7 linked regions of the Homo sapiens genome follow. The protein of the gene in region 7 purifies or fractionates together with the protein of the main gene of each other region. This does not show direct contact. Each region holds a gene or a part of one and is shown on either strand. Other genes may lie near its edges.

What was found.
Region 1: the proteins of COL1A2 (region 7) and FOXO1 purify together in Homo sapiens (affinity purification with mass spectrometry, with the first as the bait; one large-scale study listed by BioGRID). This does not show direct contact.
Region 2: the proteins of COL1A2 (region 7) and LAIR2 purify together in Homo sapiens (co-immunoprecipitation; one large-scale study listed by IntAct). This does not show direct contact.
Region 3: the proteins of COL1A2 (region 7) and THOP1 fractionate together in Homo sapiens (co-fractionation; one large-scale study listed by BioGRID). This does not show direct contact.
Region 4: the proteins of COL1A2 (region 7) and ENPP4 fractionate together in Homo sapiens (co-fractionation; one large-scale study listed by BioGRID). This does not show direct contact.
Region 5: the proteins of COL1A2 (region 7) and NTPCR purify together in Homo sapiens (affinity purification with mass spectrometry, with the first as the bait; one large-scale study listed by BioGRID). This does not show direct contact.
Region 6: the proteins of COL1A2 (region 7) and FZD1 fractionate together in Homo sapiens (co-fractionation; one large-scale study listed by BioGRID). This does not show direct contact.

What each region holds. Positions count from the first base shown.
Region 1 is NC_000013.11:40,558,642-40,562,141, reverse strand, and holds part of FOXO1 (forkhead box protein O1), read left to right. Parts: intron 1-1,281; coding exon 1,282-2,619; 3' UTR 2,620-2,633; intron 2,634-3,107; 3' UTR 3,108-3,500. UniProt on the Homo sapiens protein: Transcription factor that is the main target of insulin signaling and regulates metabolic homeostasis in response to oxidative stress.
Region 2 is NC_000019.10:54,508,509-54,511,187, forward strand, and holds the end of LAIR2 (leukocyte-associated immunoglobulin-like receptor 2 isoform a precursor), read left to right. Parts: intron 1-526; coding exon 527-577; intron 578-2,017; coding exon 2,018-2,061; 3' UTR 2,062-2,179; downstream 2,180-2,679.
Region 3 is NC_000019.10:2,802,503-2,806,002, forward strand, and holds part of THOP1 (thimet oligopeptidase), read left to right. Parts: exon of another isoform or gene 1-1,693; intron 1,694-2,108; exon of another isoform or gene 2,109-2,153; intron 2,154-2,513; coding exon 2,514-2,674; intron 2,675-3,500. UniProt on the Homo sapiens protein: Involved in the metabolism of neuropeptides under 20 amino acid residues long. Involved in cytoplasmic peptide degradation. Able to degrade the amyloid-beta precursor protein and generate amyloidogenic fragments.
Region 4 is NC_000006.12:46,139,989-46,143,488, forward strand, and holds part of ENPP4 (bis(5'-adenosyl)-triphosphatase ENPP4 precursor), read left to right. Parts: coding exon 1-421; intron 422-1,063; coding exon 1,064-1,234; intron 1,235-3,287; coding exon 3,288-3,500. UniProt on the Homo sapiens protein: Hydrolyzes extracellular Ap3A into AMP and ADP, and Ap4A into AMP and ATP. Ap3A and Ap4A are diadenosine polyphosphates thought to induce proliferation of vascular smooth muscle cells.
Region 5 is NC_000001.11:232,971,111-232,974,610, reverse strand, and holds part of NTPCR (cancer-related nucleoside-triphosphatase), read right to left. Parts: intron 1-3,500. UniProt on the Homo sapiens protein: Has nucleotide phosphatase activity towards ATP, GTP, CTP, TTP and UTP. Hydrolyzes nucleoside diphosphates with lower efficiency.
Region 6 is NC_000007.14:91,268,825-91,271,826, reverse strand, and holds the end of FZD1 (frizzled-1), read right to left. Parts: 3' UTR 501-3,002; downstream 1-500. UniProt on the Homo sapiens protein: Receptor for Wnt proteins. Activated by WNT3A, WNT3, WNT1 and to a lesser extent WNT2, but apparently not by WNT4, WNT5A, WNT5B, WNT6, WNT7A or WNT7B. Contradictory results showing activation by WNT7B have been described for mouse.
Region 7 is NC_000007.14:94,418,895-94,422,394, forward strand, and holds part of COL1A2 (collagen alpha-2(I) chain precursor), read left to right. Parts: intron 1-603; coding exon 604-657; intron 658-1,338; coding exon 1,339-1,392; intron 1,393-1,496; coding exon 1,497-1,550; intron 1,551-1,646; coding exon 1,647-1,754; intron 1,755-2,114; coding exon 2,115-2,168; intron 2,169-3,004; coding exon 3,005-3,058; intron 3,059-3,500. UniProt on the Homo sapiens protein: Type I collagen is a member of group I collagen (fibrillar forming collagen).

The sequences.
Region 1 (3,500 bases), on a different chromosome or scaffold from region 7:
CTACTTGAATTAAAAAAAAATTTCTTTTGGCAGGTCAGCTTTCTCAAATACAAAAGCAATGACTCTGTTTTCCTTACATTCACTTGTATTTGCTTAATGGGCTTTAAAGGTGTGAATGAATCCAAGTCTTATTAATTTGGGGGCCTTTAATTCTTGATCAGCTCTATATTTCTATATTCTTTTTTTTTTTTTTTTTTTGGCGACAGAGTGTTTAACTCTTGTTGCCCAGGCTGGAGTGATCTCAGCTCACCGCAGTCTCCTTCTCCTGCCTCAGCCTGCCAAGTAGCTGGGATTACTGGCGCCTGCCACCACACCCGACTAATTTTTGTATTTTTAGTAGAGATGGGGTTTCACCATGTTGGCTAGGCTGGTCTTGAACTCCTGACCTCAGGTGATCTGCCTGCCTTGGCCTCCTACAGTGCTGGGATTATAGGTGTGAACCACCATGCCTGGCCTATATTCTATATTCTATATATTCTATATTCTTTTGTCTTTTTTGTTTCTGTAAGTATGTGGGCCCAGTAATATAAAACTTCTTTATGTAAATGGCACAGGTTCAAACTGAAGAGAATTGGCAGTAGTTTTAAGGATAGTAGAATGGAAGGGGTTTTTGATAGCACTTTGATACAGAGTACTATTGTAGCTAAGCAAAATTTAAGCGGTTATTAAAACCAATTCCTTTGATTTTTCCATAAAATGTAGCTGTATAAAAGAAGGTATTTACAATACTCTTTATTAAATTTTGTCCCTTCATTAAATTAAGATATAGAATTTTTTTTTTTTTTTTTTTGAGATCGAGTCTCACTCTGTCTCCCAGGCTGGAGTGCAGTGGCACGATCTCGCCTCACTGCAAGCTCCGCCTCCCAGGTTCACGCCATTCTCCTGCCCCAGCCTCCCGAGTAGCTGGGACTACAGGTTTGCACCACCATGCCTGGCTAATTTTTTGTATTTTTAGTAGAGATGGGGTTTCACTGTGTTAGCCAGGATGCTCTTGATCTCCTGATCTCATGATCCGCTTGCCTGGGCCTCGCAAAGTGCTAGGATTACAGGCGTGAGCCACCGCACCCAGCCACAGATATTGTTTTTAAGATAAGATACTATTTATTCCTGTGCTATTTGAGATCTTTTGTAGTGGCTTCAGAGCCATTAGGACTGTTCAGATGGAAATCTGTAGCACACACTCTTAAGATTTTTTACTTGTTTTCCATGTAATACATGTAGAATAGGAAGTTTTGCAAGCAGAGAAGTATTGTACTTCTAATAAGATGTTTTGCCTTACAGAATTCAATTCGTCATAATCTGTCCCTACACAGCAAGTTCATTCGTGTGCAGAATGAAGGAACTGGAAAAAGTTCTTGGTGGATGCTCAATCCAGAGGGTGGCAAGAGCGGGAAATCTCCTAGGAGAAGAGCTGCATCCATGGACAACAACAGTAAATTTGCTAAGAGCCGAAGCCGAGCTGCCAAGAAGAAAGCATCTCTCCAGTCTGGCCAGGAGGGTGCTGGGGACAGCCCTGGATCACAGTTTTCCAAATGGCCTGCAAGCCCTGGCTCTCACAGCAATGATGACTTTGATAACTGGAGTACATTTCGCCCTCGAACTAGCTCAAATGCTAGTACTATTAGTGGGAGACTCTCACCCATTATGACCGAACAGGATGATCTTGGAGAAGGGGATGTGCATTCTATGGTGTACCCGCCATCTGCCGCAAAGATGGCCTCTACTTTACCCAGTCTGTCTGAGATAAGCAATCCCGAAAACATGGAAAATCTTTTGGATAATCTCAACCTTCTCTCATCACCAACATCATTAACTGTTTCGACCCAGTCCTCACCTGGCACCATGATGCAGCAGACGCCGTGCTACTCGTTTGCGCCACCAAACACCAGTTTGAATTCACCCAGCCCAAACTACCAAAAATATACATATGGCCAATCCAGCATGAGCCCTTTGCCCCAGATGCCTATACAAACACTTCAGGACAATAAGTCGAGTTATGGAGGTATGAGTCAGTATAACTGTGCGCCTGGACTCTTGAAGGAGTTGCTGACTTCTGACTCTCCTCCCCATAATGACATTATGACACCAGTTGATCCTGGGGTAGCCCAGCCCAACAGCCGGGTTCTGGGCCAGAACGTCATGATGGGCCCTAATTCGGTCATGTCAACCTATGGCAGCCAGGCATCTCATAACAAAATGATGAATCCCAGCTCCCATACCCACCCTGGACATGCTCAGCAGACATCTGCAGTTAACGGGCGTCCCCTGCCCCACACGGTAAGCACCATGCCCCACACCTCGGGTATGAACCGCCTGACCCAAGTGAAGACACCTGTACAAGTGCCTCTGCCCCACCCCATGCAGATGAGTGCCCTGGGGGGCTACTCCTCCGTGAGCAGCTGCAATGGCTATGGCAGAATGGGCCTTCTCCACCAGGAGAAGCTCCCAAGTGACTTGGATGGCATGTTCATTGAGCGCTTAGACTGTGACATGGAATCCATCATTCGGAATGACCTCATGGATGGAGATACATTGGATTTTAACTTTGACAATGTGTTGCCCAACCAAAGCTTCCCACACAGTGTCAAGACAACGACACATAGCTGGGTGTCAGGCTGAGGGTTAGTGAGCAGGTAAGTTCACCCCAATATCAAAAGACCTTTTGAAAAATAGAACTTAAAAGCGAGGAACACAGTAACTTGCCATGGTTAGCACATCTTTGATGTCAACTGACTGTCCCTTGCAGAGAGGGATCTTTTATCATTCATTCTCTGTCCTTTTTGCAGCTTACAGTTTTCCTTCTGAGCTTACACAGAAGGAAGCTTCCTTTAACTGCTTTAAAGATTTCTTTTTGACAGTTCGATGGCTGCATCTTTTTAGTAGCTCTTCAATAAATGAATACATTTGATATAAATCAAATGCTGAAGGGTTTTTTGTAAAGTAGAATTTTCCCCATTGAATGATTTTAGAGCTGTTTGAGAAAGCTCTAGCTTTTTGCCCCTAAGTATGTCTGTCACTCTTAACATGTTAAGTTGAATTGATTTTAATTTGGCTATATTTTCATTGTGTGTGTATGTGTGTGTGCGTATGTATGTGTTTTTTCCTAGGTTACACTTAAAAGTACTTCAGATTGTCTGACAGCAGGAACTGAGAGAAGCAGTCCAAAGATGTCTTTCACCAACTCCCTTTTAGTTTTCTTGGTTAAAAAAAAAAACAAAAAAAAAAACCCTCCTTTTTTCCTTTCGTCAGACTTGGCAGCAAAGACATTTTTCCTGTACAGGATGTTTGCCCAATGTGTGCAGGTTATGTGCTGCTGTAGATAAGGACTGTGCCATTGGAAATTTCATTACAATGAAGTGCCAAACTCACTACACCATATAATTGCAGAAAAGATTTTCAGATCCTGGTGTGCTTTCAAGTTTTGTATATAAGCAGTAGATACAGATTGTATTTGTGTGTGTTTTTGGTTTTTCTAAATATCCAATTGGTCCAAGGAAAGT
Region 2 (2,679 bases), on a different chromosome or scaffold from region 7:
GGGATGAGTGTCTTTTCACACAGGATTGATGGTCCCATTTGTTATTCCTTTCCACTGAGCCAGAACCTGCCCCAGGCAATGTGCTTCTCCTGGTGTGGTTCATCTCCCACTGGGCAGAACACAGGGTCCAGGGATGGCCCCTGACCAGGGCGGGACAGTGCTTTGGGAAAACCTTTGGTATGTGACCACATGCACTCCTGTGTGTGCTCAGCCCGAGATGTCCTGGAGTCAAAGTCCACTGGAGAGGATCCAACCCATCTTCATGTCCCCCCAGGACCTCAGCAGTCCCCTGAGGTCAAGAAGAGCTTGTGGTGGGAGGAGCAGAGGGAGTGACCAGCCCCAGGGAGAATGGGGCAAGCAGCGGGGCTCTCCCCAGCCTCCTGTCCCCTGCCCCGTTTTCTCAGGAGTCTCGAGACATTGTCTGGGATTGCGTGATGGTCATGCGGCCTTTGGATGGGGGCTCAGGGTGGAGGAGGGCAGGTTGGTTGGGACGGGTTCTAAATCCTTCTCCTGCCCCTGTTTACAGAAAGCTCTGGAGGCCCGGACTCCCCGGACACAGAGCCCGGCTCCTCAGCTGGTCAGTAGCAGGGCCCTCAGCTGGAGGGGATTACAGGGGAATCTGTGCTGCGGATGCTGTTCCGGGTCCAGCCCTCTGCCCTGGGCTTGGAGTCAAGGTCTAGGGAGGCCACGGGAAGGCACCGACACCCACCAAGCTCTGGGAGGTCGCTAATGCTCACAGAGACCATAGCAGCAATGGTACAGTGATTGCAACCTTGTTCCATGCCAGGAACTGTGGAAAGCACTTAATGCAAGCACCACTTAATGGGGGAGGTACTAGTCTGATCCTCTAACTCCTCCTCCTCTCTAATATGCAAAACATAAATTAAAGTTTCGTGCTTAACGGCACAAGGCCATGAAGGGGCAGGGGCCACCCACCCGGGCAGCCCCACCCCAGACTTCCGGGCTCTCCCGAGCTCCACGCTGCCCCCTTGTGGGCGTGGCCTCACCATTCACCCCGCTCTGCACCTGATGGAGGGACTTAGAACTCACCTTCCAACCTGGGACACCCGGAGAGGGACGGGGCTGCTCCTGTTGGCTCTGTGATCTCCGGGGGAGGCCTGAACGGTGGAGTAAGGTCCCTTAAGAGGAGGAGGGCTCCACAGGGAGGGGACGTAGCTGTGAACGGTGACCAGGATGAAGCCATGAGGCTTCCCTTCCATCTGGCTCTGCCCTGGACTCTGTGATGGGAGAGAAGCTGCCTCTGGCTCTGCCCCTGGACTCTGTGTGATGGGAGTGAAGCTGCCCCAAGTCCCTGGGTCTCAAGTTGTCCATCTCCGCCTGTGATCTGTGACCAGAAACTGCCAGGGGAGGACACGGGGTCATAAGCCATTCGCGGCCCCTTCCCCACCTGGGTTTCTATCCCCAGAGTACGTCCTTGGACCTAGACCCGGTGACTGCCTGTGAGGCTCGGGCTGTGAGCTCAGGCAGGTGGGACCAGGGGCTGAAGCCACATGGGGAGGTGGGAGGAGCGATGCCGTGCTCCATCCGGACCCCCTCAGAGGCTCCTGGGCTGCTGGGGCACAGCGGGACATGCTCCTGAGTCCCGCAGACCTGGTTCAAGTCCAGTGTCTGGTTTTTATTAGCCTTCTGTCTGCGGGAATATCTTGCCTCTGTTTCTCTCCCTCTCTTCTTCTCCTTCCTTCTCTCTTCTCTCACCTTCATGCAGTGACATATAAAGGTCACGAGGGCAGACCCTCCTGCAGCCAGATTGCTGGGTTCATGGTTCAAATCCCGGTGGTTCTGCCACCCCCTGGCTCTATGCCTGACGGTGACTCACCCAAACCTCCTGTGTCCCAAATTCCTCATGTGAAACAGAGGCAATAGAAGAGCTGTCCTGGTAGAATCGTTTAGGGCAGACTTGAGTTCAGGTACACACGGCGCTGACATCAGTGCTGATTAGAAAACCCCAAAGGAGGGATGCTCCTATTAATACTGAGGAAGTATTTTGTCCTCACAGGGACTGTGCCAGGCACTGAAGCCTCCGGATTTGATGCACCATGAATGAGGAGAAATGGCCTCCCGTCTTGTGAACTTCAATGGGGAGAAATAATTAGAATGAGCAATAGAAATGCACAGATGCCTATACATACATATACAAATAAAAAGATACGATTCGCAATGGAGAATTTCAGACCTATCATTTCAATTATATTAAATATGTTCACGTAATGTATTACATATATAAGGAACATAATTATATAATAAAAATATGTTAACATATCACCACATATCACTATAATTATATTATATGAAAGATTTATTTACAATATATAGTACAATAAATTTCAGGTGTTATTATAATTAATAAACAGGTACAAACATAAATATATATTATCTATTATTTATAGATTATAATTATAATAGAAAAATTTTATATTTAATTATATGTTTATATGTAATATACATTATACATTATATATTATAGTGAATATATGCAACATATATTATAAGTATAAATCATATACAATTAACATTATATACATTAAATTATGATGTATATGTCAAGATTACATAATTTAATATATATTTGTTATATATTATACGTTTGCATAATACATGATACATATAACTATAAATAATATAAAAACTGTAATATTGCACATATATAATACATATGTA
Region 3 (3,500 bases), on a different chromosome or scaffold from region 7:
ACCAACACCTCACGACACCCACACCTCCCGACACCAACACCTCCCGACACCAACACCTTCCGACACCCCCACCTCCCGACACCGCCACCTCCCGATACCCGCATCTCCCGACACCACCATCTCTGGCATTAAGTTCCTGGTGCATTTTGGAGGGGACGCACCCAACCAGAGCAGAGACCTGTGAGTGTCCATCACTCGCACATTGTCATACACTAGTTGCCATGTCCATGGATGACTTCTGCCGCCCTCACCCTCTGGGCATCAGTCATCCTGCCGTGACTCCGAACCTTCCCTCCTTGCCTGTCTTCTTACTGATTTGTTTCTGTCCGTGTGCATGAGGCTTCTGTCTTATTCCCGGGTTATCATTCATTATCATTTATCCCAGTGCTCAAATCGTCCCACATGGACCCTCAGGAGTCCCTCCGAACAATCCCTGTGTCCTTGTAATGCACCTGCTGTCCTCTGAACCTGCTCTTACTGTGGGGCACATGGTACCGCAGGCTCGGCCTCTGAGCCCGCGCTTACTGTGGGGCGCGCGGTACCGCAGGCTCGGCCTCTGAGCCCACTCTTACTGTTGGACATGTGATGTCGCAGGCTCGTCCCATGCTCTCCCTGCCCCAGCCCTCAGATGCTCCATTTCTTGGAGGAGACCTGGCGCCTTTGAGTGGAGGGTGACTTAGGCACCGGATGTGTTCACCACTGCCAGGGAGCAGCATTCCTGGGCACCGTTAACAGTTAGGAAGCAGACACGCATCTCTGCACCACACATGGACACACACACTCTTCTATTCTGTGTCTGTATATCAAATCCACAAGTGCAGCGGGGCATGCCGGCACACACCTGAGGTCCCAGCCACTCGGGAGGCTGAGGCAGGGGGATTGCTTGAGTCTGGGAGTTCAGGGCCACAGTGAACGTGAACTATGCATTCGTGAACTATCCATTGCAGCCTGGGCAACAGAGCAAGACCCTTTTTCTAAAAAAATAAAAACTTCCAGGAGTCCACTTTGCAGCTTCTCTTCCAGTCCAGCGCTGCTGGGCCCCCCAGCTGTCTCCCTTGCTGTCCTTTAACTCCCGTCTCCGACCGCCAGCCGTCACTCCTGGGTGACACACTGTCGAGATGGAGAGCTGCTGTTTGAAGGCCCGTGGTCCTTGGAAAGGACGATGTGCAGGTCCCGGGAGGCCTCCCCCTCATGCTGCAGTCACTCGGCAGACAATTGCCAGGCCCACGCTGGTGCTGGGGTACAAACGGGAAGGCGGGGGCTCTGCCGGCCACAGGACTCTCAGCTCCCTCATCACCACCCACACCCACGGGCTGGCCTCCCAAAATTTCCCCCATCTGCCTCTGGCCCCCCAACCGGATCATTCTTTCCACCCTTGCCTCCCTGGGGTCCCCGTGAGCTCCCGATCATTCTTTCCACCCCTACTGCCCTGGGGTCGGGGTGAGCTCCCAATCATTCTTTCCACCCTGACCGCCCTGGGGTCGGCGTGAGCTCCCGATCGTTCTTTCTACCCCTACTGCTCTGGGGTCCGTGTGAGCTCCGGATCATTCTTTCCACCCTGACTCCCCTGGGGTCGGAGTGAGCTCCCGATCATTCTTTCCACTCTGACCGCCCTGGGGTTGAGGTGAACCAGTCTTTGCATTGAAGCTGCAAGCCTGAGGCACGGTGGCCCTGGCGTCTCCCGAGCCATGAGGTAGGAACCCCAGAGGGTTTCAGTCCGGGATGCTGCCGCCCCCACTTCTCTTGAGGCTGTCGGGCAGGGGCCAGGTGGGAGGGTGTGGCTGCCGGGCAGCGGGGTGAACTGTGTCCTGCCAGGGGTTTTGTGGGTGGAGAAGGGACAGCAGGGCTCCAGTGAGAAGCTCTGGGAGTAGGAATTGGGTCTCTCTGGAGGGACACACTTGAAAGTGGTTGAGCCGTGGGGCTGCGTGCTGAGATCTCAGCTCTGAGCGGGAGGCTCTGCCTGGGGGTGGTTCTTCAGGAAAAGCAAAGCAGGACCTCCCTCTCCACGTGGGGCCTCCCTCTCCGCCCAGGGCCCAGCGTGCTCAGCTCTCCTGCTGTTTTTGTCTTTGATGGGAGGCACTGCCTCTAACGCTGGTTTCCTTGTGCAGTGGCCGGGCCACCCTTCCCGCCACCCTCCTCCCTTCACACATGAGGTTGGTGACGGCGCCCTGGAAGCCCACGATGTCCGGGGGTTGGGCTGGATTTAGCTTTAACCTCTCTGGGGCAGGAGATCCTGCTCTGAGGATGCTGGGGGGTTTCCTGGTGGGGTTAGAGGCGGGACGTGAGAAACGTGGCAGGTGGTGGCCAGGCTGTGGGGGAGCCAGGGTATTTCTTGATGGGGTTAGATGGGGGATGTAAGAATTGCAGCGGGTGGTGGCCAGGCTGCAGCTGCTCGCTGAGGGCCCCCTTGTAGCTTTCCAGGCAGAGGGGAAGCCCACCCCTTCCCTCACACGCTGTGTGCAGGCTGTGGGCCCATCAGTCCTGTCAAAGCCACCCTGGTTCTGTCCCCATAGGAGGGCTCCCCGAGGACTTTCTGAACTCCCTGGAGAAGATGGAGGACGGCAAGTTGAAGGTCACCCTCAAGTACCCCCATTACTTCCCCCTCCTGAAGAAATGCCACGTGCCTGAGACCAGGAGGAAAGTGGAGGAGGCCTTCAACTGCCGGTGCAAGGAGGTGAGAAGGCACGGCCAGGGGGCCCCAGAACAGTGGGTCTGGAGCTTGTGGGGCCCGTCTGCTCCATGTGTGTGAGGCACCTCCAGGCTTTGCACTTGGATGGCCTCCCAATCTCCCTGGCCAGGCCCAGTGGCCAGCAGAGGCCTCCCTGTGGGGCTCTGCCGTGCCCTGGAGGTGTCTGTGCTGGGCTCCACCCAGACCCTGGGGCCACAGCTCAGGGCCCAGTTCATCCTTCCCAAGCTGAGCCTCCTGCTGCTGCTCTGAGCATCTGGCCGCGCACACGTCTCGTCCCTCCCTTATCTGGAGCCGCCCCTCAGGTGTGTCAGCCCAGATCATTCCTTTTGTCTTAAATGATGGTGCCCGGACCTGAGCCTGGGTCCACAGGTGGGTTGTGACTGGGCTATCTCGCTGTGACTGGCGTCAGACGGCCGTTCCCACAGGGACACATGTAACTGTCCACGGCGCCATGGTGTGGTCGGTCAGGTGGTCTCTGCACGTCTCCCATTCGCCATCTGGAACAGGCAGAGGCTCTAGGAGTGGGCCTCTTGGTCCCCTGACGACACCAAGTTGGTGCTTGTGCGGCTGGCAAAAGGGGGATACACGCTGATCACTGCAAAGGGATGGGCGGGCACTGATCACTGCAAGGGGACGGGCGGGTGCCCATCACTGCGGGGGGACGGGCGGGTGCCCATCACTGCGGGGGGACGGGCGGGTGCCCATCACTGCGGGGGGACGGGCGGGTGCCCATCACTGCGGGGGGACGGGCGGGTGCCCATCACTGCGGGGGGATGGGCGGGTGCCCATCACTGCGGGGGGTGGGGGACGG
Region 4 (3,500 bases), on a different chromosome or scaffold from region 7:
TGGCCTGGTACTGATGTACCCATTCACGATACCATCTCTTCCTATTTTATGAATTACAACTCCTCAGTGTCATTTGAGGAAAGACTAAATAATATTACTATGTGGCTAAACAATTCGAACCCACCAGTCACCTTTGCAACACTATATTGGGAAGAACCAGATGCAAGTGGCCACAAATACGGACCTGAAGATAAAGAAAACATGAGCAGAGTGTTGAAAAAAATAGATGATCTTATCGGTGACTTAGTCCAAAGACTCAAGATGTTAGGGCTATGGGAAAATCTTAATGTGATCATTACAAGTGATCATGGGATGACCCAGTGTTCTCAGGACAGACTGATAAACCTGGATTCCTGCATCGATCATTCATACTACACTCTTATAGATTTGAGCCCAGTTGCTGCAATACTTCCCAAAATAAGTAAGTAAACATTCAACTGAGGGATACTATTATTCGAATGGGGCAATTGATTGAGGGGGGTGGGTTGTATAAAAGAATGAAGCTCTAGCTTTTTGTAGTTTAGAACCATATACTCAGAGTGGGATTATATGTTTTTTTCCTCTTGTTTACAAGTTGAGAGCAGTTGGCCTATGGTTTAGTTATATGGCTTATGGTTTAGTTTCAAAGTGAGTATTTCTTTGCTTTTGATATATCTAATTATTTGCACTAGAAAAAGGAAATTTTTATCCTTAAACATCTTAGATTTTAGTGTGTGATATTTAGTGGTGAGGTACTTTCTTCTACTGATCATAGAAGTAGTAGTTAGTAGTAACATGTAATTAGTTTATGTTTACTTAGGAAGATACACCTGAAAAATGTCCCCTATCTGTAAAAGTCCACCATGGTAATCCACAAAGTGAAACAGATTTGTTAATGTTTGAGAAAGGTGTGTGTTTGTGTGTATCAGTCCCCAACACTCTCACATTATTATTGCTCTGTTTTTTTAAGAAGTGATTTAATAGATGACATTATCTATAATTTACTTCCAATTATTCTAGTTAGACATATTTTTTCCTTATCAATCATAACTTGTTTCCTTTGCTGTTTCTTTTTTTTTCTCAGATAGAACAGAGGTTTATAACAAACTGAAAAACTGTAGCCCTCATATGAATGTTTATCTCAAAGAAGACATTCCTAACAGATTTTATTACCAACATAATGATCGAATTCAGCCCATTATTTTGGTTGCCGATGAAGGCTGGACAATTGTGCTAAATGAATCATCACAAAAATGTAAGTATTTAGTTGAGATATTTCTGTTGTATCCTAGGAACAAATCATACCTTGTGATACTGTTGTGTTAAGAGGGTACTTCGATTTAAAGAAGTTCACACAGAATAATTAGTTCAATTTTCAACCAGATAATTCCCAGGTCTTCATTTAATAGCAATTTACAGTAATCACAATTTCACCTTTAAATTAGAAAGTAAATTTAAGAGTGAAGGCAAAGTCCTACTTTCTTTCCAAAACTGCAATTACTGTCAGTAATTTTCAAGATTCATTCTCTTGATTTATACAAAATAGAGAAGTAAAGAAACAGTAAAAGGGGAGAGATTAGCTAATCCTTGTTCTTTTGTGTGTTAAAAAAAATTTGTCTGAGTAACCCTAAGTCTTCCCCAGTAACAAAATCATTTACCTGAATGCTACAGCTATTTAGAACACTGGGCAAGAACCAGAAAGTAACCAAACAAATCCACCAAGTGAACAAAATAGATACATCAAAATCTCTCCTAAAAAATATATAGGGGAGAAAATGTATAGGGGTGAGTTACAGGCTTGCCTCAAACTGAAGCTTATTTATCCATATTTCATATTCAATTCAAATGCTTTTTTTAAAATCTAATTTTGTGGTCTATGGTAGGGGTCAGCAAACTTTTTTAGTAAAGGGCCAAATAGAAAATAGTTTAGGCTTTGTGGGCCAGCTGGTCTCTGTCTCAGCTACTCTACTCTGCCTTTATTGTGTAAAAGTAGCCATAGACAACCTGTAAAGAAATTGAAGTGGTGTGCTTCGGTGAAACTCTGTTTACAAAAAGGATGGAGGGCTAACCTTCGCTATGGGCTGTAGTTTACAGTTCCCTGATATATAGCAATTTAGAAGTATCAGGCAAGCATAGGACAGACTCAGAATCAATGAAGTTTGTATATTATTTACATCAATGTTATGTTGCATATTTGTTGTTGACAACCGAAAGTATAGAAAAGCATAGGAAAGAGAACAAAAACTATCCATAATCCCTCAGTATGGATTTATAGGCAAATGTTAATTGTGGACATTTCTCCCCATCCAATCTTTTTTCATATATATATTCTTTTCTAATATATATCTATATTATATATATTATATGTAATATAATTATATGTAATATATATAATATATATAATGTATATTATATATTATATATAATATATAATTACATATAATTATAATATATATTTTCTACATATATATGTAGAATATATTATATATTATATATAGAAAAATATATATTTTTTTCTAATATATGTGTGTGTGTTTTAATATTATTGAAATCTTTATATATTCTGCTTTTTGTCATATTGGTTATTTTTATGATGAAATATTTCAAACATACCACCAAAGAATAATATAACAAATATCAGTATACTCATCACCCAGTCACCCGTACTTAATATGAAAGTGGGAGCTTATTAAATACAACGGGTGTACGTTAAATGGCAACATTTGTTAAAATAAAGCTAAAAATTGGGAATTTATTATTGGAGTTGTATTAGGGACTATCATATGCTTTTCTTTAAGTCTAACTTTTACTGGGATAGAGTCACCAGATTAGACAACACATTCAACGCAAGATCCCTCCTGTAACAATTGAGATAGGTTAGGCTGCAGATTTTCTTTTTCTCCATTTGTTGGCCTTACTCACTTCTGTTCTTCCCAGTTACACAGAACCCTCAGCCTGACCACTGTCTTTATAACTGGTACTGCTTGCAGTGAGCTTTTGCAAACAGTGCTGAGATTGACAAGTGAAGTAATTGGTACTCGGGCTGAAAGATAAGTACATCAGGTTGACAAGTGGTGGTAAAGTCTGAGGGTATGACCAGTTGGGAAAAGGGGCATATGTGTGTGTTTGTGTGTGTATGTGAGAGAGAGAGAGAGAGAGGGAAATATGGAACATAGCTGAGTTGAAGAAATAGAAATTTTTATTTCTAGTCCCTTTCTGAAAGAATTGAATGTTTATATACTAGAAGCAAGTTATTTTGTCCTAAAAAGTCTGATCTTATTGACTGATGTTGTTTTGTTCTTTTTCAGTAGGTGACCATGGTTATGATAATTCTTTGCCTAGTATGCATCCATTTCTAGCTGCCCACGGACCTGCATTTCACAAAGGCTACAAGCATAGCACAATTAACATTGTGGATATTTATCCAATGATGTGCCACATCCTGGGATTAAAACCACATCCCAATAATGGGACCTTTGGTCATACTAAGTGCTTGTTAGTTGACCAGTGGTGCATTAATC
Region 5 (3,500 bases), on a different chromosome or scaffold from region 7:
AGGAGGTGCCAAAGATTGTATCAGTGAGATTTTATTTTCCTTCTCAGGTACTGTTCTTTCTTTTCTTTTTTCAGCTATTTTTTTTAACACATCAGAGAATGTTATCGTTTTGCCTCAACTGTCAAACATAATTCTTCAAAAGTCAACAGAGGAAGAAAAGCCCACTACACTCACTCAGAGTTTTACTCTTCCCATTGTTCTTTCTTCCTTCCTGATGTTCCAGGTCTCCTTTTACCATTTCCTTTCTGATAAGAGAACTTCCTTTGGCCATTCTTTTAGAGCAGTTCTATTATGACAAATTCTCTTAGTTTTCCTTCATCTGTGAATGTCTTATAGAATTATGAGTCGACAGTTGTTTCAACACTTGGAAAATGTACCACCTCCTTCTGGCCTTCATGGTTTCTCCTGAGAAATCTGCTGTCACTCATATTGTTTTTACCCTATAGGTAAGGTGCTGCTTTCCTTTCACTGCTTTCAAGACTTTAATTTTCATAAGTTTGACTATGGTATGTCTTGGCATGAATTTGAGTTTATCCTCTTGGGGTTCACTGAAAATGTAGGTTTATGTCTTTTGCCAAATATGACAAAAATGCAGCCATTACTTCTTCAAACACTTTTTCAACCCCACACTCATCTCCTGTTACTACAATGATGTGAATGTCACATCTTTTGTTATAGTCCCACAGGTCCCAGAAACTCTGTTCATTTTGTTCATTACTTTTTCTTTTAAGTCTGCTCTTTGTCAGGTAATTTCTATTGTTCTACCTTCAAGTTCACTGATTCTTTCTCCTGTCATCTCTATTCTGCTGATGAGCCCATTCAGTGACTTTTTTATTGGCTATTGTATAGTTCTAAAATTTTCATTTGATTCTTCTATCTTCTAGGTTTTTGCTGAAACTTTCCAGTTCTTGCTGAGACTATTTTTCATTTGTTTCATGTGTATCTGTAATTTTATGAAGCATTTTTATGATAGCTGTTTTCAAATCCTTGCCCTATAATTCCACTATCTGAGTCACCTTGCTGTTGAGATCTGCTGATGGCCTTTCCTCACTCAGGTTTAGGTATTCCTGATTCTTGGCATGACAAATGATTTTCAGTTGTGTCTGTTGTGTTGTTCCTTAGGTCCTTAGGTTCCTAGCCAGTCTGTCTTTTTCTCTTCACTTTTCAGGTCTTCTTATGCTTGTATTATAAATAACATCCTTAGCAGGAAAAATAAACACAAGTGTGTCTACTCTATCTTGTCTAAAACTGGAAGAGTTCTCGGGTGTTTTTGGAAAGTACTCTGTTCACCCAACGTTATGAAGAATAAGTCAAGATAATATTACTAATTTGTGTGGTATATTTCCCCCATATCATGAGCTCAGTCTCATCTTCACACTATGCATATTCATTGGAAAGTACTCTGTTCACCCAACATTGTGAAGAATAAGTCTAGATAATATTACTAATTCGTGTGGTACATTTCCCCCATATCACGGGCTCAGTCTCATCTTCACACTACGCATGTTCAGCTGGTAGCAAGGGGACGCTGACTCTGACCCCTTTTCATAGCTCATTTTCTTACCTGGAATGTTCTCCCTTCTTTTTCCCATTTCCTCCTTCAAGAGCCAACTCAAGAACCCCTTCCTTTGGACACCTCTCCACTACCACTGCTCACATAGATCTCTCCCTTCCCTGCCCCTAGATTTTGATTGCCCCATGGTCTGTTTTTCTTGAGGGCAGAGATCATGCCTCACAGGTGCCTAAACGATGGACTAAGTACTGAATGTGAAGGGCACTCTCAAAAATGGATTCGGATACTTTATTGCATGTGAGCAATGGAAAGAACCCAAAAATATATCTAATCCAACACCTAAGTTTGCAGATAAAGAAAATGAGGTTCTTGGCCAGGCACAGTGGCTCATGCCTATAATTCCAACACTTTGAGAGGCTGAGGCAGGCAGATTGTTTCAGCTCTTCAATTCGAGATCAACCCCGGGCAACATGGTGAAACCCCATCTCTACAAAAAATGCACAAATGAGTCAGGTGTGGTGGCACATGCCTGTAGTCCCAGCTTTTTGGGAGGCTGAGGTGGAGGATGGCTTCAGCCTAGGAGGCAGAGGATGCAGTGAGCCAAGAGCATGCCACTGCACTCCAGCATGGGCCACAGAGACTAACCTTGTCTCAGAAAAAAAGAAAATGAGGTTCTTGATTTATAAAACTGGAAAAGGCCAGGCACAGTGGCTCACACCTGTAATCCCAGCACAGATTACTCTGGGCAACAGAGCAAGACTCTGTCCCTCCCCCTCAAAAAAATAAGTTAAATAAAAAATAAAATAAAACTGAAACAGAAGGACCACACAAACCCCAAAGCAACAACAACAAAAAAAAACAGGGTATGTCAGCCCCTATCTCTTACTTAATTAACTCAAAGCTAATTGTTTTATTTACAGATCATTAGAAGCAATGATTATCTTGCCTGGAGAATAATTTTGAGTCTCAGAGAGCGGAAGAAATGTGGTATGATCCTAAGACACAAAGTCTGTTTCTGGGCATCACAGTCAGCTCCTTTCAATCCTTCCTTAGGACTGTTAGATTAGATTAGTTTGTGGAACTAGCCAATCCCTGGAGTCTAACACTAGCAATTTCCCGGTCTTCCAGCCTAGAAGCTATCTGACCTCAAAACTAATTTTCTTTCATGATCTTTCACTATTCATTGCCTTGATTTCCATGGAAACTCTATAATCACAACCAAAAATGTAAAATAAGAGAAGACGACATGAAACTCTGAAGAACCCCACAGACTTTTCAGGGCTCTCAAATGTCACCTCCTTGAAGAGACCTTCCCTGATCGCCCTTGCTACTCCTGCCCCCAACTACCACATTGCCTGGTTTCTTTATTTTTGCCTTTATCAGTATCTGAAATTGCTTAACTTATCTGTTCACATTTTTGGTATTCAGCTCCTCCATTAGAATGTAAGCTCCATGAAAGCAGCGCCTTGGTCAGTCTCGTTCACCACAGTATCCCAAGACTTAGAATGACACCTAGCATACAGTAGGTGCTCAATCACTATTGACCAAATGAAGGAATAAATAAATCAATAAAGAAGCGCATACATTTTTCCAAGTCTGGCTGGTCTAACCCTAATGGCTGTTTACCACCACACTCCAGGATTCTTGGTGGCAACATGTGGATACTCCAGGATTCTTTGGTGGCAACATGTGGATACTGCCAGTGGGCCAAGGTGACATTTCACTCAGTGATTAAAATGATCATGAGGAAGGTGCTCACGGGTACTCACTCTCCACTCCCCCTGATAGGAGTGGCCCTGCCTGCCTGACTTGTTCACTTGGCACTTGCAGGGCCAGGGAGCTTTTAAACTGGGGGTGGGGAGTGAGGTGTGTGAGCAGAGCTCAGCCAAGAGCACAGCTACCACTGACTCAAAGAAACTAAGGGTAGGGGTTGGGGAGAAGCAATATCTGACTGAGAGGAAAACAGAGGGACAACAGGGAAAGAAAG
Region 6 (3,002 bases), 3.2 Mb from region 7:
CATCTTTTAAAAAATGTGTGTGTAAAATGTACAAATCATTGCTATTTTAATACTTTGCTTTTAGAATTACTAGTCACACAAATATGCCATTCAACTAGTGTATTAATAATACCTCAAGAAAATGCAGTGTTATTTACATTTTATCATTCAAAAATACACCTCTTTAGAATACCAATGAAATAGTTTACTTAATCTCTTTTGGAAAATTGTATCTTATTCTTTCAAGCAATTTAAGGATCTGCTTGACTCATAAAACTGACGATGACCCACAGAATACTTATTATATGTTCATTGTGTACATGTACTTATAAATTGTATTTGAACTTATATATTATTAGAAAAATTTCTTTGAGAAACCCTTTTGTTTGACCTGTTATTAGGGTCCCAAACCAACCTATAAACAAAGATCCCCAGAGGAAGTATTATATTTGAATAGCAACTTGATTCTGTAATGGAGTAGAGACATTTGTCACCACAAAACATGATACAACTTAGAAAAATTACTCTAGAAATTGTGTTTTAATTTCCAGGTTCTAAGCAAGCTGTTTTGTCACTATAATTGTTAAAGTTTAACATATCCATTGTCAAAGGTATGACCAAAATGAATAAAAATATTTAAGCCCAAAAAGTTTAAGGGAACTCTGAGACATAATTGATGTTCAAGTACCATTTTTCAAATGTTAAGGGCTATTGGCATCTGCCAACATTCAAAACAAACATATATATCTTGAGAGTCATCAAAATAAACTTTACTTTTTTGGTACTTCCCTTGTAAGATCCCATTTTAAATGTAAGGACATTGAAATAAAAGCCTTCAATTTAAGATAGTATTGCAATTCCTTTTTAGTCATGTAACTAGATAATTCTTATATATATTCCATGTCTTATGTTGGTTCCTACACATTAATCCTGCAAGCCTTTGACATTAGTGTATTCTGCAAAGTATTCAATGACAATATCACCAGCGTCCACCTCTAGACATACGTACGACTACATTTTGCTTCTAATCTCTCAGGCCCCAGTTACACAGACTATTATAATAAGAAATGAATCAGAGATATCCAATGCCATGACACAGGTTTCAATTAATTGCATGTGCATTATATAAATTGTGGCCAATAGTCAATAGATGGATTAGAAAGCAAAAGCACACACAGTAAATATGCATCTTAAAAAAAATGTATACCAAGGTTGAAACATGCTATCAGGGACAGTGATCTGCGGCCACTCAAGTCCTGAAATGATTTATGATGTAGTCTATTATTTTTCTTAATTGGCCACCAACTCTTCATTGTAGTCTCCTTTCCTAGTTAAATGCTGGACATTAAGGTGATACAACTACACCAGAAGGCTTCAGTACTTACAGTGGAGACAAAAGGACCAGGCCAGTAAACTCAGGCTGACAAGTGACTACCATAGGACAAGCTGAAAAAATCCGGCCCGGCTCTTTTGCACGTGTTTGACACTGGCTGGCTCTGAAATTAAAAATATGACTCTCTGTCCCCACAAAGCTTAAGTGGAAAACTGCTTTTTTAGAAAGAAGAGCTTCAGAAGTCTTTCATACTACTTATATATTTACTCCAAAAGCTAAATTAAGTACACTGTGAGGGGGGAAATTGACCCCAATTTATAGCTGGTTTAAAAAAAAAATAGGCAAATCAAACCATCTGAAAATAGGGTTTGTCATGGAAACAGCAATGCTAATGGGACAGTATCCCAAGTAGCCTTATGGTTTTCCAGACACGTCCTATTTTGCCACCAGTATTAAAAGAAATAAAAGAATACACTGGTTTTCTATATGCATCATCATTTAGAATAAATTGTTTTCTAAGAATAAAGGCTGGTGGTGACTTAAAAATGTCTTCTAAAGCTATTTAACCACAGCATGTAAAACCTTTCTGCATCAAATTTATAGTTACATCATGTTAAGGACACCTCCAATAAGACTGCTTTAAAATATAGTTTTGGATAGCAATTAATGTCAAAAACATGTTTTTCCAGAAATTATCTAATTGAACTACTTAGTGAGGAGATATGTGTGAATTTGGCCTAAGAATACTATTTTTTTGTGTATGTCTATACAATAAACCCTCTATCTACTATATTATGTTAATGTAACAAAGAAAAAGGGAACACAAAATTGCATCTTGCTACTTAAAATCAAATGCTACATTTTTAGTAAGATCTAATTTTTTTGATTTTCCTTAAAATGAATAATGACTTATAAGACAATTGCATTGTAACAAGGAAAGTAACTCTATTGTATCAATGATCTTCATTTTAGTCCCTTGTCATTTTATCACAAAATGTTTTCATGGGAAAATTTAGTAAAGATATTTTTAACCTGTAAAGGTATTTGAGGTTTTCCATCTAGCATTTTCCATTTCTCATAACCATATTTCCATATTATGAAATGTAAGTAAACTTTACATCTCTATTTTATAAAAATTAATGCATATATACTTATGTGTATACTTATCTATATATACACATATATACACCCATGCATAAATTCTGACTAAGAGTAGACCAACTAGATAATTTATCTGGAGAAGGTTCCTTGAACGATTAAAAAAAGGGGTCTTCAGAAGCAAACAACAAAACAGCCTTACAAACCCAATTGCTGTTTAAAATGTTTATGAACACATAGCCAGTTAACCATTTATTGATTGCCTATTTAGGGTTTTGTAATATCCAAGATTATGGAAGAGATAAGACAATACCTCTAAAAAATATGAGAAAGGTGATGATTTAAAAATAAACCTCCATAATATAAAAAGTCATGTAAATTTATTCCCTGAAAGAAAAGAAAGCTTTAATATTAAAATTAGAGTTCTCTTTTAATCCTCTTTGAGTAAAGAAATAATTTGCAAACTTCTATTTTCTACTGTCATGAAAACAGATCTTTTCTTGGGACTTCACAAATGTCAATCACAACAATGCAAACAGAGTAATTCTTTGGAAAGACTGATCTGAGGGTTTAAGGGTAGACTTTTTTCATT
Region 7 (3,500 bases):
CTCCTATGCTTTAGGAAGCCGGGACCTCTAACAAGATTCTATAGTTATTCAAACCTACTCCCTAGAAATTTATCACCCAAAGAGCAGCCCCAAAGATTAGCTGTTAATGCCATGAAGATGCCAAAGATAATCCCATGACAGTCTAATTACCTTATCTCGTATGTCAGCCTCATGGGTCTTCTAGGCCACAGTCGGCCTGGATTCCTTTATTCACCTCTCCTTCAGAGCTGAAAACTGACTGTAGCACATCTGTAATAGTCTTTCTTTTGAATCACGTAGTTCTAACAGTTTCAAACAAGGCTACTCATTTGCTGCTCTCCAGGGAATTTTACAATAGCGGAAAGTTCAGATCTCCCAAATTTCTGACCTGCTATTGACTTACACATTTCCATAACCTTTATTACTGGAGTACCCTCCTTCTGAGAGTGGCTTCTAATAGTCTTGTTAATTAGAACCAAAATACATCAGAGGCCTTCTAGATATCCAACCAGAGTGCAGTGAAAGTGTTCAGTCACTGTATAAGCACAGAAAAAAAGAATGACAAGGTTCACTTTTGATGATACGGGGTGTTATTAATAAGACATGTTTCCTTTTTGGTACTAGGGTGCTCCTGGTGCTGTAGGTGCCCCTGGTCCTGCTGGAGCCACAGGTGACCGGGTAAGCATGCATTTTCACTAAGCCAACAGCAATATCTAAAATTTCCCGCCTTCCCTAGTCCCAAAGAGCCCCAGCAATTCATTTTTATGGCTTGGTATAAAGCCTACTTATTTAAAAACCTAGCTATTGTGATAGAGCAGCAGGAAACAAATGCTGTGTGTTTAAAATTACTTTTCCCTTCCTATAGATTTGCCAGCTATCTGATCTATACTCTAATCCCTAGCATTTGTTTTAAAGTCTCTCCATGTTGCGCATTAACAATATCCTAATGCACTGAGGCTTCTCAAAGCCTTCAATTATTACCAAAAAATCAATAAAATACATAGTGTGCCCATTTCACATTGAACTCTCCACTTAAAATAGATCTTATTTATTGTATTGCAAAGATTGCCACAAATAGATCAGCCCCGTGTCCATCTAAAAATTAAAATGTCCTCCTCCTGGTATTGTAGGCACTGATTTATAGTGTTTTCTCAAGTGTATAACCCATACTACTTAACCCCCAAAATGAATATAGCATTAAGTAAAAATCCACTTCATTTTACTCTGTGAGATGTGCGTCAGTTATCTCTTCCAAGGCAACTACAGACTCTGTCTGTCCACCACTGTTCTCTCTCCCTCCCAGTTCTTTGAGCATCTATGTCAGGCACATTAACAGATTCATCTTTGGTCCCATTATAGGGCGAAGCTGGGGCTGCTGGTCCTGCTGGTCCTGCTGGTCCTCGGGGAAGCCCTGTAAGTAAGAACCTGGGTCATTTTGTATACTCACACCTCACAATGTTTAGACATTGATGAACCTAGGATTGATAACACATTTTTAAATCCCTTCTCCCACCTAGGGTGAACGTGGTGAGGTCGGTCCTGCTGGCCCCAATGGATTTGCTGGTCCTGCTGTGAGTATCACATAATGAAGATTAATCTGAAAACATCCTAAGTTGGGGAGTAGAGTGGGTCGGAATACCAGAGCTGTAACTGTTTATTTCCAACAGGGTGCTGCTGGTCAACCTGGTGCTAAAGGAGAAAGAGGAGCCAAAGGGCCTAAGGGTGAAAACGGTGTTGTTGGTCCCACAGGCCCCGTTGGAGCTGCTGGCCCAGCTGTAAGTTGAATTCACTGGTGGTCCACACAGCAGCTACCCATTAGATCTTCCAATTAAATATATATCCGTCAAGTGCCTGCTATGCAACAGGGAATATACCAGATAGAAGATGGAAAATAACGGAAGGATTAACATTTGCACACTGCTTTACAAAGTATAAAAGTTTCATGAATATTGTTTTATTTTAATTCTCTGATAACCTCATAAGGGTGGTAATATTGAAGAACATTCTGACACAGATAGTCATTTTTTATTTCTATATTTTCTTCTAAGAGATGCGGGAATGATCCACTTGAAGAAAAGAGTAGCATTTACAAGGGTTTGTTTGTGATTTGACTCCATCTTTTTGTTTGCATTTAGGGTCCAAATGGTCCCCCCGGTCCTGCTGGAAGTCGTGGTGATGGAGGCCCCCCTGTGAGTATTTACAATGGACTCTCGCCGCTTTTCTTTTTTCAGAATCTATTAAGGACACTTGAAAGTTTTGAAATTTTTGGTAAATTTGGACTACCATGAGGAAACTTTTGAGATTCAAGTTCATTCTATTCAGAGCAATTCCGATATTGATGTTAACTTGAACTCAGCTGGAACTCAGTGTATGTTGCTATCAGCTCACTTGAGGTAATAACCAAGGTGGGCCCTAGGCAGTTTAATTGTAAAGTCGGAAAAAATATTCCTTTTGGCGTTTATTAATATGCCCCTTCTTCTGCCTGACCATGTCCTTCTCCTTTGCAGGCAATGCTATCACAACAATTCTCTAGAGACCCAGAGCTCCCCAAAAATGAACTTTACTGACTTCTTCTCTCACTGGACAGTGCTGAATTATCTAGGTCATTTGTTATTCTTTTGTCCATGAACACCATTACCTATTAAGTGTCCATTTCCTTACCACTCAGCCAGGTGGTAAAGATAGTTATTAATGTATACACATTAATGTGTAATAATGACATAGTGTCTTATCTTCATACCTTTACAACCATAAGATAATATGTCAGCATTTCAGAAAGGACCATCCAAACCTTAACGCAAAATATGGGCATTGCAACTGGTAATATGCTGGTAAGGAAGATGTGTGGAGAAGGAGGGCCTTCAGGGTCCTGGCTAAATAATGCCCTATATGAAGCTGCCTACCTCCTACTCCTTGGTCTATTCCTGGTCACATGTACTGATTTTCCAAAACAAAGAAATTCCCATCTTACCCAAATTCTTGGAGTTGATGTTGACTGTGGAATTCTAATGTGCTTGGCTCTTAGGGTATGACTGGTTTCCCTGGTGCTGCTGGACGGACTGGTCCCCCAGGACCCTCTGTAAGTAAATCACTGTAAACGTGTCTTCATTTACTCTAGCCAAAAGGCCTGGCTTCTGATAGGAAACTGGTAAGAAACTCTTCATGAAAACACATCACTAATATTCGCTATTACTCTCCTGGTCTGAAGTCAGCTTTTCTGAACCATTAAGGTATTTCATCACAAGTTATATTTTATAATATCAGTTTAAGAGGCTTTTATTCATGTGAACACCAGTCCCCTTTCAGGGGCATGGTCTTTTTGAAAAAAAAAAAACAAAAAAACGAACAGTTTTAGCCACATATCAGATATTTCTATATCTAATTATCCTTTATGGCTAACATTCTGCCTCCATTGTTAAGGTATAATTGTTCCTGAATTTAAAGGTGGTTTGGCCTCTAATTTAATTCTGATTCAGACTCTCCTGTCAGGACTCAAGAAAATTTAATTAATTACCAAGGAT